3 linked regions of the Homo sapiens genome follow. The protein of the gene in region 1 purifies or fractionates together with the protein of each later gene. This does not show direct contact. Each region holds a gene or a part of one and is shown in the gene's direction. Other genes may lie near its edges.

Region 1 (3,650 bases):
TGGACATTGGGCAGAGGGAGTTGGGGAGCCAGGGAAGGAAAAGAGGACTCTATTTAGATCCAGCCCCATGAAAAAACTGCTGTCTTTTTACACTTAGGGCTAGATGTTGAAATCTGTCACATCTGAGCCCGGCAGACTGGGTGTCCTCAAAATCTTAATGCAGTTTTAAGCTTTCATAATTTCAGAAGCATAAATGATCCAAACTTGCCAAAACATCATTTAAAATTTAATTAAGGCCGGGCGCGGTGGCTCACGCCTGTAATCCCAGCACTTTGGGAGGCCGAGGCAGGCGGATCACGAGGTCAGGAGATTGAGACCATCCTGGCTAACACGGTGAAACCCCATCTATCTCTACTAAAAAATACAAAAAATAAGCTGGGCGTGGTGGCGGATGCCTGTAATCCCAGCTACTCGGGAGGCTGAGGCAAGAGAATGGCATGAACCCGGGAGGCGGAGCTTGCAGTGAGCCAAGAATGCACCACTGCACTCCAGCCTGGGCGACAAAGCGAGACTCCTTTCTCAAAAAAAAAAAAAAAAAGTTTAATTAAATTTCCTTCATGCTTATCTAGTCTTGTGGAATTTGAACAATACCGTTTTACTTTTTTGTTTTAGGCAATGTTTGCTGTCTTCCATTGGAGTGACTGAATTTCTACATGACGGCTTTTTGTAAGTTTGTAGTATTTACATTTTTGTTTTAGGCAATGTTTGCTGTCTTCCATTAGAGGGACTGAATTTCCACCTGACGGCTTTTTGTAAGTTTGTAGCATTTACGCTTACGAATATTAAGCCTGCACTAAGACCTGGGACACCCTGTCTGCTGTGCAGTTAGGCTGACTTTGAAGCTTCTGATGGTTTTGAGCTTTTCTTTGAAGCCCAAGCAAGTGTTTATGGCATAAATTACAGGTATTTTCGCCTGGGGCTAGGTTGGGTTTGAGGTGTAATCAAGGTGCTGGACTGTCCTCCAGGCTCTGAATAAAGGAGAGGTAAGCTCCTTACAGACATTAGCTCATTAGCCAAGCAAGTGGACACAGAGCTGTTCCCATTTCATGGCAAGTGTAAAAATCCGGAGGAAGGCAGGAAGAGACAGTTCTGACTTCCTGTGCAATCCACCCATTTGGCCTTAAACAAGTAAAGACCAAATGAAAATGATGTGAGAGTTATTTTTTAGCTGGACATGTAACCAGATTCTAATCACCTTCTGAATTGATATTTAATTACACTGTAGTGTGTAGCCGATCTCCAGAGAGATAGAATGTTTGGCACAGTTACTCTTGAGTATCTTTTTGTCAACATCACTGCTTTCACTGCTTCTTTCAGTCAATATATTTTGTTTCCAGCTTCCTTCCTAGGCCTTTAATTCCTGCTGGGACAGGAATCTCTCAATTCACTCTTAAGCCTTGTCGAAACCTTTCTTCCTCCCATCTCCCACTCCATCCAGAAATAGAATTGTCCTCAGCAACAGAGGTTGGCAAGCTCTAAGCCGTATCTAAGTTTCAGAGACTGTTTTTTGTTGTTGTATCTTATTAGAAAAGTGCTTTAACGTTTTTCAGCAGATAATTTGGCATATCACGGCTGCTTTCACCTTGTGCCTGTGATGACAATCTATTTCTTGGTGACTAATAAGTTATTCCTGCTCTTACACCAAAGTGCACCTCCATGCTCTTTGAGAATGTGATGTTGGCTCTTATTCCAGCCTTTGTTCTCCCTTGTCAGGCAGGATAGCTGCTCTTGTTGCCTGACATGTTGATCATCCCTCTGCCTTTTTTTAGAATGGTAAGCTTTGAGGGAGCTGGGTTGTGGGAAACGTGATTCCAGCTCCCAGGAGCTTGACAATATCACACATCTTTACAGTAAGCAGATGAGAAGATGACAGTTGCTGCAGCACATCGAGGGTAGTCATGTTTTCCTTCCTGAGGATTTGGTGCTAGGTTGTAGCTGACCACATGCTGTCCGTTTACTAACATACACTGATAGTGAGCTGAGGAGCGGGGCCTGGGACCGCGGAATCAGGGGTCTGTGGTTTGTATGTAGCGTAGAAGCTGAGCTGATGTCTGATAGTGTCCCACAGGGCAAGAGGCCTCCACAAGAGACCAGCTGGACCTTTGTGAACCCTGGAGATGCAGCCAGGATGTACATTTCCATTCAAGGCTGAATGGACATGAATAACCTTGGTCGTTGCTTGGGTGTGGCCTCACTGGCAGTGATCCAAAACATGCTGGTGGAGGAGCAACGGTGATTTCATGCATGGGAATTCTCTGCAAACCAAGGGTAGATCATTTGTACTGAAAGCTTGTTGGATGAAGTCCTACCCTGAAGTAAATTGCATCGGTTTACTTGACCCTCACCTTTATTTTCCTAATGAGGAAGAAAGCTCTGGGTTAAACAGTTCTCAGTATTTTTGCTGTAAAACTTATAATGTAAAACAACAATGCTGTTTTAAAATCTAGTGATTAAAAATTATGTAAGTATGGAAAATTACTGTGACTTCTCTAACACTTCTAGACGAATTTGTGTTTTCCTGAGCACGGTAGCATTTCTGTGAAATTTTACAATGATGTTTATGTGCGTGTGCAGACATACTTCTTTTTGGGGCAGTGCTCGGGACACCTGGGTTTGTGAACTCCAGTAATTCAGCACCCAGCAGTTGGGACACCTGGACTTGGTTCCGTTTCTTTCTGACTTGTCTGACAAGCTGCCACATGAAGAAGGCCCCTGTCCATTACAGCTGAGGCGCATGTCCTCATTTTAACCTTTGTAGATATATAGTAATATTGATATGAATGCTTTTAGTGCCATAGAAATTGTGCCCATAGAATTGCCTCTTCTTCACTTTCTAAACTTCACTCAGTTTTCCTCTTGCTGTGTTCTTAGTATATTTGAGGACCTGAAATAGTTTGTAGTGTACACCTAAATTGCAATGCCTTCTATAAGTTTCATATACAGAGAGAGAGTTTAAGGTATTATGGAAAGTAAGATTTAACACCCTCAAAGCTCTTCATCTTGAGAGCCAATCTGCCAGGTTTAAATCCTGGTTCTGTTAACCGTGTATCCTTGGGCAAGTTATGTAATCTCTGTGTCTCAGTTACCTCATATAAATTTTGAACAATAATAGTCCTTCCCTCATAGGGTTACTGCGGGGATTGAATAAGTGAATAAATGTAAAGCCTCTAGAATAGTGCCTGGCACGTGGTAAGGACACAATAAATGTTAGCCATTCTCATTGTTAATGTTAGTTTTACTTATATGAATGGTGGAATTTTATGTAGATTGCTAATCAACTTTGACTCTGTTATTTTCATGTGAAATTATGGTTGAAAAGTTAGGGGCATGAGCCATTTATTGAAATGAGAAGTTTCAGTTTATAATTATAATTGTCTTTTTTTCCTTAGGACAAGACTTAAAACCTGTCTTGGATAGAGAATATTTAGCCATTTACCTAAAAATGGTATTTTTTACATGCAATGCATGTGGTGAATCAGTGAAGAAAATACAAGTGGAAAAGCATGTGTCTGTTTGCAGAAACTGTGAATGCCTTTCTTGCATTGACTGCGGTAAAGATTTCTGGTAAGCTTCACAGAATTCATGTAGATCCATAGTAAATCCAGATCAGTTTTGGAAGCCTTGGCGCCACAAAGCTTGGAAAAATAGTG
Region 2 (3,650 bases), on another chromosome or scaffold:
CGAGATGGCGCCACTGCACTCCAGCCCGGGTGACGGTGGGATGAGCCGAGATTGTGCCACTGCACTCCAGCCCGGGTGACGGTGGGATGAGCCGAGATGGCGCCACTGCACTCCAGCCCGGGTGACGGTGAGATGAGCCGAGATGGCGCCACTGCACTCCAGCCCGGGTGACGGTGGGATGAGCCGAGATGGCGCCACTGCACTCCAGCCCGGGTGACGGTGGGATGAGCCGAGATCGCGCCACTGCACTCCAGCCCGGGTGACGGTGAGATGAGCCGAGATCGCGCCACTGCACTCCAGCCCGGGTGACGGTGGGATGAGCCGAGATCGTGCCACTGCACTCCAGCCCGGGTGACGGTGGGATGAGCCGAGATCGTGCCACTGCACTCCAGCCCGGGTGACAGGGTGGGATGAGCCGAGATGGCGCCACTGCACTCCAGCCCGGGTGACGGTGGGATGAGCCGAGATCGTGCCACTGCACTCCAGCCCGGGTGACGGTGGGATGAGCCGAGATTGTGCCACTGCACTCCAGCCCGGGTGACGGTGGGATCAGCCGAGATCGTGCCACTGCACTCCAGCCTGGGTGACGGTGAGATGAGCTGAGATCGCGCCACTGCACTCCAGCCCGGGTGACGGTGGGATCAGCCGAGATTGTGCCACTGCACTCCAGCCCGGGTGACGGTGGGATGAGCCGAGATTGTGCCACTGCACTCCAGCCTGGGTGACAGAGTGAGGCCCTGACTCAAAAAAAAAAAAGACAGAAAGGAAATATACCAAAATGTGTCAAGTTGGTTGTCCATAGGTTATGAAATGTGGGAGTTTGAGTTTATTTTAACTTTTATATGTTTTCCATAATACTCTTTTTTTTTTTTAATGGGAGAGTGCCCTACCTCTTTTTATTTAAAAATCTTACATGAGTTAAGCCTTTCATTTCCTTGTCTTCAGCAATTTACTTTCTCTGTTGCAGGATGGCAAAACAGAAGAGAAAAGTTCCTGAAGTGACAGAGAAAAAGAACAAAAAGCTGAAGAAGGCGTCAGCAGAGGGGCCACTGCTGGGCCCTGAGGCTGCACCAAGTGGCGAAGGAGCCGGCTCCAAGGTAAGGCCGCCTGTGCTTCACTGGCCCTGCCCTCTGGGATCCACCTGTTATCTGATCTGGAGGGAGAGGGGGTGGCTCAGCCTGCTGGTCTCTGTGGAGCAGAGCCTGGAACAGGTGCGGAGGCGTGGTGGGGCTTGGTGCCTTCCAGAAGCGATTGTAGGACAAAGAAGGATTTTAGTAAATTTTGAGTTGGAACCCTATGACTGCCTTTCTTAGCTGCCAGGAAACTGCTGTTTTGGGTGCTGTGTTGTGTAGGGGACTTGGTGGCGGCATGCAGGATGGTGAGGGGCCTGCAGCAGGCCTTCGGTTGGGCCCTGGGAAGGTGCGAGGGGCGGCTCCTCACCTGGGCATGTGCAGAGGCGTGTCCTGAAAGCCTGTGTTTAAAAATGCACATCTAGAAATGTTCGTGTCGAATAACACGATTATTGTCCGTTTGAAAATCACCTATTGGTATCACTTTCTAAACGGTGTGCAGCGGGTTATGAATAACGTTGAGATTTGAGTATCCACCACCATTCACTTGAAAAGACACGTGAGCCATCTTCTCCTAAAGTGATGCATTTTTATTCTTCGTTTTCTTGAGACACAGTCTCTGTCGCCCAGGCTGGAGTGCAGTGGTGGGATCTCAGCTCAGTGCAACCTCCATCTCCTGGGTTCCAGCGATTTTCCTGCCTCGGCCCCACAGGTAGCCAAGACTGCAGGTGCACACCACCACGCCCGACTAGTTTTTTGTATATTTGATAGAGACCGGGTTTCACCATGTTGGCCAGGCTGGTCTTGAAACTTCCGACCTCAAGTGATCCACCCACCTCGGCCTCCCAATATGCTGGAATTACAGGTGTGAGCCACCGCACCTGGCCTGCATTTTTATTCTTTTTTTTTTTTTTTTTTTTTTTTGAGACAGAGTCTCGCTCTGTCACCCAGGCTGGAGTGCAGTGGCGCCATCTTGGCTCACTGCCAGCTCCGCCTCCCAGGTTCATGCACTCTCCTGTCTCAGCCTCCTGAGTAGCTGGGACTACAGGCGCCTACCACCACGCCCAGCTAATTTTTTGTATTTTTTAGTAGAGACGGGGTTTCACCATGTTAGCTGGGATGGTCTCGACCTCCTGACCTCGTGATCCACCTGCCTCGGCCTCCCAAGTGCTGGGATTACAGGTGTGAGCCACTGCTCCAGGCCCTGCATTTTTATTCTTGAAAGTATTTTATTATGTACTGTATCATGTTTATCTTCCACAAAAAGATGCATATACATTTAAATTTGAAAATATAAAAAATTTTTTGACCCACCAAGTTCTGAGTGTTAAAATTTCTCTTCTGCATTGAGCTGTGTTTACCATTAGGAGCATGCAGTTGATCGAAACAGCATAATAGATTAGGAATTTTCACAAATGATTCTACATAAAGTGAAATCTGACGACGCGCGCGTCACATCGTGGTAAGAGCATTGTCACCCCGTGTTACCACCCCGTGGAAGGGCAGGGCTTTCCGTGTCTGCGGATGGCACACTCACCTGTGGATCCGCGCTGTCATTGCTCGAGAGAAAGCGGGTTTCCACAGGCTTTGTTCCTGTTCTCATGTCAGATTTCAGTGCTGAGCGCCCTTGCTGACATAGATGAGTAAATGGGAACAAGAGTAGTGTTGTAGCTTTGTTGCTTAAGTCCTTAAACTTTGAGACCATTCTGTGGTTTGGGCACATATTTTCAGGATTTATTTTAAAGCTCTATCAGTAAGTGACAGGTGGACTGGGTCCCTGAGTTGTGCAGGGGCCCGGTGCTGGCTTGTTACATTTGTTCACTTCCCCAGGGTGACACCAGGGTTCAAGCTTTGCCATTGATTAGTGCTGGAGGTCTCGTGCCTGGGGCAGTGTGCCATTGTGAGATGTGGGGTGGCAGGTGGCCCTGTTTTTCATGAAATGAGAAAATGGCCGCTGTGCAAAGGGAGGTGGAAAGGGGGAGCCCACGTGGGCCCTTCAAAGCGGCTTCCAGCAGGAGGTGGGCACAGCCAGTGCTTGGAGGGGTCCCTGGGCTACCCAGCCACGGATGCCCGGGACGGTGGAGTGTGCCTGGTTGCTGGGTGTGGCCCAGCTCACTCTGGGATCCTGTCCAATGAGGCAGTGCTGAGCTCTCGGAAGGTGGTGTGAAATCACGTCCACCACGTCTGTGGCTGCAGGCGGCTCAGCAGGCGTGGGTGGAGGGGAGAAGCTGGGGTGTGTGCCTAGAGGAGCTCCTGGCTGTCTCAGAGGGTCGTCTCTCACTGCCACCCCCCGGGCGAGGGAAGCCAGACAGCACCCCAAGCACAGCCAGACAGCTTGTCCTGGGCTCTCTAGCAGAACACCCCAAGGTCACCCGGAGGCTGAGGCCTGGCAGGTGCAGAGGTCCTGCGGCTCCCGCGCAGCGGGTCAGCAGGCAGCCCCGCGTTCCACCTGAGCCTCACCTTGAATTTCGGCTCCTCCTCCGCAGGCTGTTGAATTCCTGTGTCTCCCAGGCTGACTGCCTCTTTTTTTTTTTTTTTGTGCTTTTTTAAAATTTTTTTTATTTTTTATTATTATACTTT
Region 3 (3,650 bases), on another chromosome or scaffold:
TAGTAGAATTTTAAATACTTACAGAATGAATAATGAAGGGTGTAAATTCAGTCACTAGGAGAGAAGTAGACCATCATCGCTGCCCGACTTTTCAGTTATCTTCTGGTTTTGTGGTGGTTGTGCTTTTGTCACTTTACATGAGGTAAAATGGGTATGCTTTTGTCACTTTACATGAGGTAGTTGATGTTAGTAATGCGCATTAAGATAGAAATATCTTGTATTTATTGATAAATTGGATTTTTTTTTTATTTTTGTTAGATCCAGTGCTTGCTGGGTTTTTTTAGAGAGACAGGGTCTCACTCTGTCCCCCAGGCTGGAGCACAGTGACGTGATCAAGGCTCACGGCAGCCTTGACCTCCTGAGCTCAAGCAATCCTGTTTCAGCCTCCCGAGTAGCTGGCACTGCAGGCATGCTTCACCATGCCCAGCTAATTTTTAAATTATTTTTTGTACACACATGGTCGCCCTGTTTCCCAGGCTGATCTTGAATTCTTGAGCTCAAGCGATCCGCCTGCCTTGGGCTCCCAAAGTGCTGGGATTACAGGCATGAGCTACTATGCCTGGCCTGGATTAACTGGCTTTTGAGGGGGCCTGAGTTAAGTTCCTACCACATATTTCCGGTCATAGAAACATCACCATACTTCTAAATAAAGACCAAAACATTTAAAATATTAAACATTGAAATAAATGTGAGCTATATATACATTTGAAACAGTAATAAAAGGAATTGACATAATTATTTACCCAGTTATTCCCATCCACGGTTGTAGGTGGCTGGAGTTTAATCCTGATAGCTCAGGGAAAAGGGTAACAGGCAAGAGCCAACCCTAGAAAAGGCGCTGTTTCATCACAGGACAAACTCATACACCTACATTCGTTGGGACTGGGACTGGGATAACTTCAACACACCAGTTCACCTAATGTGCACGTATTTGGATGTCGGAGGTTATGCTCACAGATACCTCCTGAGCTTGGTTTGTAGGTTTTCAGTATTACTCGTACTCTAGCAAAAGAAGCTTTCGGAAGGAGAGAAAATTTAATTTTTTGCTATTTGTTAGACTGATCTCCTAGTGTTTCTCTCTTTAGCCATGTTAATTGTGTCCAATGAATTTTTAATTTTGTTTTTGAGACAGAGTTTCACTCTGTCGCCCAGGCTGAAGTGCAGTGGCATGATCTCAGCTCACTACAACCCCCCGCCTTCCAGGTTCAAATGATTCTCTGTGCCTCACCCTCCTGAGTAGTTGGAACTACAGGCACGTATCACCATGCCCAGCTAATTTTTGTGGTTTTAATAGAGATGGGGTTTCACCATGTTTACCAGGCTGATCTCGAAGTCCTGACCTCAAGTGATCCTCCTGCCTCAGCCTCCCTGAGTGCTGTGATTACAGGCGTGAGCCACCGCGCCCAGCTGAGTATTATTCTTTACACTCTAAACCATACTGTGTTTCACAAAAGTCTCTTAACTGTATACTTTAGATAGTCAGATTCTGAAATGCCGGTATATAATTTACTGCATAAAATGCATGTTTGGCTGTGAGTCAAAAACTGCGGTTGAGGTTCCAGTGCTGGTTAGGGAGTTTGTTCTCTGTATAGATCGAGGTCCATTTAGGGGCTTATGGATAATCAAAACTGCACGTGGTACATCTATGCCGTTTGTTAACCAACAGAACTGTTCCTGCTAAAATGTTTGTATGGTGTTTTTTGGTAGGAGGCAAGGAGAAAACGAAGAGAAAGAAATTTTGAAAAACAAAAGGAGAGGAAGAAGAAGAGGCAGCAGGCTAGGAAGACTGCATCAGTTCTTAGTAAAGATGATGTGGCACCTGAAAGTGGTGATACTACAGTGAAGAAACCTGAATCAAAGAAGGAACAGACCCCAGAGCATGGGAAGAAAAAACGTGGCAGAGGAAAAGCCCAAGTTAAAGCAACAAATGAATCCGAAGACGAAATCCCACAGCTGGTACCAATAGGAAAGAAGACTCCAGCTAATGAAAAAGTAGAGGTATTGTTTTAATATTTACTGTTCATAATGGATTGGTTCAGTGGCTACTGTGTCAGGCAGGTACTGTGCTGAGCAATAAATGATGAAAAATACTAGAGTGAACCCAAAGAACTGTGAAGGTGGTTATCATATCATGATTTATTGTACCTTTTTTTTTTTTTTTTTTTTAGATGGGATCTTGCTATATTGCCCAGACCGGTCTTACACTCCGGGGGTCAAAACAGTCTTCCCACCTTGGCCTCCCAAAGTGCTGGGATTACAAGTGTGAGCCACCACACCTAGTCCCAACCGGTTGGCTTTTTTTTTTTTTTTTGCTTTGCTTTTTTTTGAAGATGGAGTCTCACTCTGTCACCCAGGCTAGAGTGCAGTGGCATGATCTCAGCTCACTGCAACCTCCGCCTCCCTGGTTCAAGCAATTCTCCTTCCTCAGCCTCCCGAGTAGCTGGGATTACAGGCGCGCACTACCATGCCCAGCTAATTTTTGTGTTTTTGGTAGAGACGGGGTTTTGCCATGTTGGCCAGGCTGGTCTTGAACTCCTGGCCTCAGGTGATCCGCCCGCCTTGTCCTCCCAAAGTGCTGGGATTACAGGCATGAACCACCGCACTCAGCCACCAGTTGGCTTTTACACAGAGAATCTGGGAACCCTTGCCCTACACCATGTGCCAGGGATGTGCAGCTACATTTGGAAGACTCAGGATTTGCTCCCATGTGTCTCTGCTGTGCTCCTCATGGTGCTTCCAGGATTCCCTCCCCTCAGTCATAGGGAAAGGTGGTTTTCCTCTGATTGGACCAGGAAGACCTCTGGGTCTTCACAGTTTTTTTTTGTTTTTTTTTTTTGAGACAAGGTCTCACTTTGTTGCCCAGGATGGAGTGCAGTGGCATGATCTCGGCTCACAGCAACCTCCACCTTTCGTGCCCAAGCAATTCTCGTGCCTCAGCCTCCTGAGTAGCTGGGATTACAGGTGTGTGCCAACATGCCTGGCTAATTTTTGTATTTTTAGTAGAGATGGGGTTTTGCCATGTTGGCCAGGCTACTCTTGAACTCCTGGCCTCAAGTAATCCACCTGCCTCAGCCTTCCATAGTGCTGGGATTACAGGCATGAGCCACCTCACCTATACCTCATTCTTAATAGTGGAATACAGCTTATTTCTGTCATCATACTGAGGTGTACCTTTTGGGGGTTAACTAATAAAAACAGTAACTTGGCCATGCGCTGAAAAACAGTAACTTGGCCGGGCACAGTGGCTCACGCCTGTAATCCTAGCACTTTGGGAGGCCGAGGCAGGTGGATCACCTGAGGTCAGGAGTTCGAGACCAGCCTGGCTAACATGGTGAAACCCTGTTTCTACTAAAAATACAAAAAATGAGCCGGGCGTGGTGGCACACACCTATAATACCAGCTACTCGGGAGGCAGAGGTTGCAGTGAACTGAGATTGTGCCATTGCACTCTAGCATGGGCAGCAAGAGCGAAACTCAGTCTGAAAAATAAATAAATACAAATAAAAACAGTAACTCCTGGAGTTAGAGTGTCAGGTTTTGTGGCTTTTTCTATATTAAACTTACTTTTTTTTTTCTTAGATTCAAAAACATGCCACAGGAAAGAAGTCTCCAGCAAAGAGTCCTAATCCCAGCACACCTCGTGGGAAGAA

Evidence for each region.
Region 2: the proteins of LYAR (region 1) and CHLSN purify together in Homo sapiens (co-immunoprecipitation; 2 studies listed by BioGRID and IntAct, with this or other methods). This does not show direct contact.
Region 3: the proteins of LYAR (region 1) and RSL1D1 purify together in Homo sapiens (co-immunoprecipitation; 2 studies listed by BioGRID and IntAct, with this or other methods). This does not show direct contact.

Annotation. Positions count from the first base shown.
Region 1 is NC_000004.12:4,283,535-4,287,184, reverse strand, and holds part of LYAR (cell growth-regulating nucleolar protein), read left to right. Parts: intron 1-612; 5' UTR 613-666; intron 667-3,389; 5' UTR 3,390-3,442; coding exon 3,443-3,564; intron 3,565-3,650. UniProt on the Homo sapiens protein: Plays a role in the maintenance of the appropriate processing of 47S/45S pre-rRNA to 32S/30S pre-rRNAs and their subsequent processing to produce 18S and 28S rRNAs. Also acts at the level of transcription regulation.
Region 2 is NC_000007.14:1,124,704-1,128,353, reverse strand, and holds part of CHLSN (protein cholesin), read left to right. Parts: intron 1-967; 5' UTR 968-968; coding exon 969-1,097; intron 1,098-2,607; exon of another isoform or gene 2,608-2,700; intron 2,701-3,650. UniProt on the Homo sapiens protein: Hormone secreted from the intestine in response to cholesterol, where it acts to inhibit cholesterol synthesis in the liver and VLDL secretion,leading to a reduction in circulating cholesterol levels. Acts through binding to its receptor, GPR146.
Region 3 is NC_000016.10:11,838,043-11,841,692, reverse strand, and holds part of RSL1D1 (ribosomal L1 domain-containing protein 1), read left to right. Parts: intron 1-1,707; coding exon 1,708-1,998; intron 1,999-3,579; coding exon 3,580-3,650. UniProt on the Homo sapiens protein: Regulates cellular senescence through inhibition of PTEN translation. Acts as a pro-apoptotic regulator in response to DNA damage.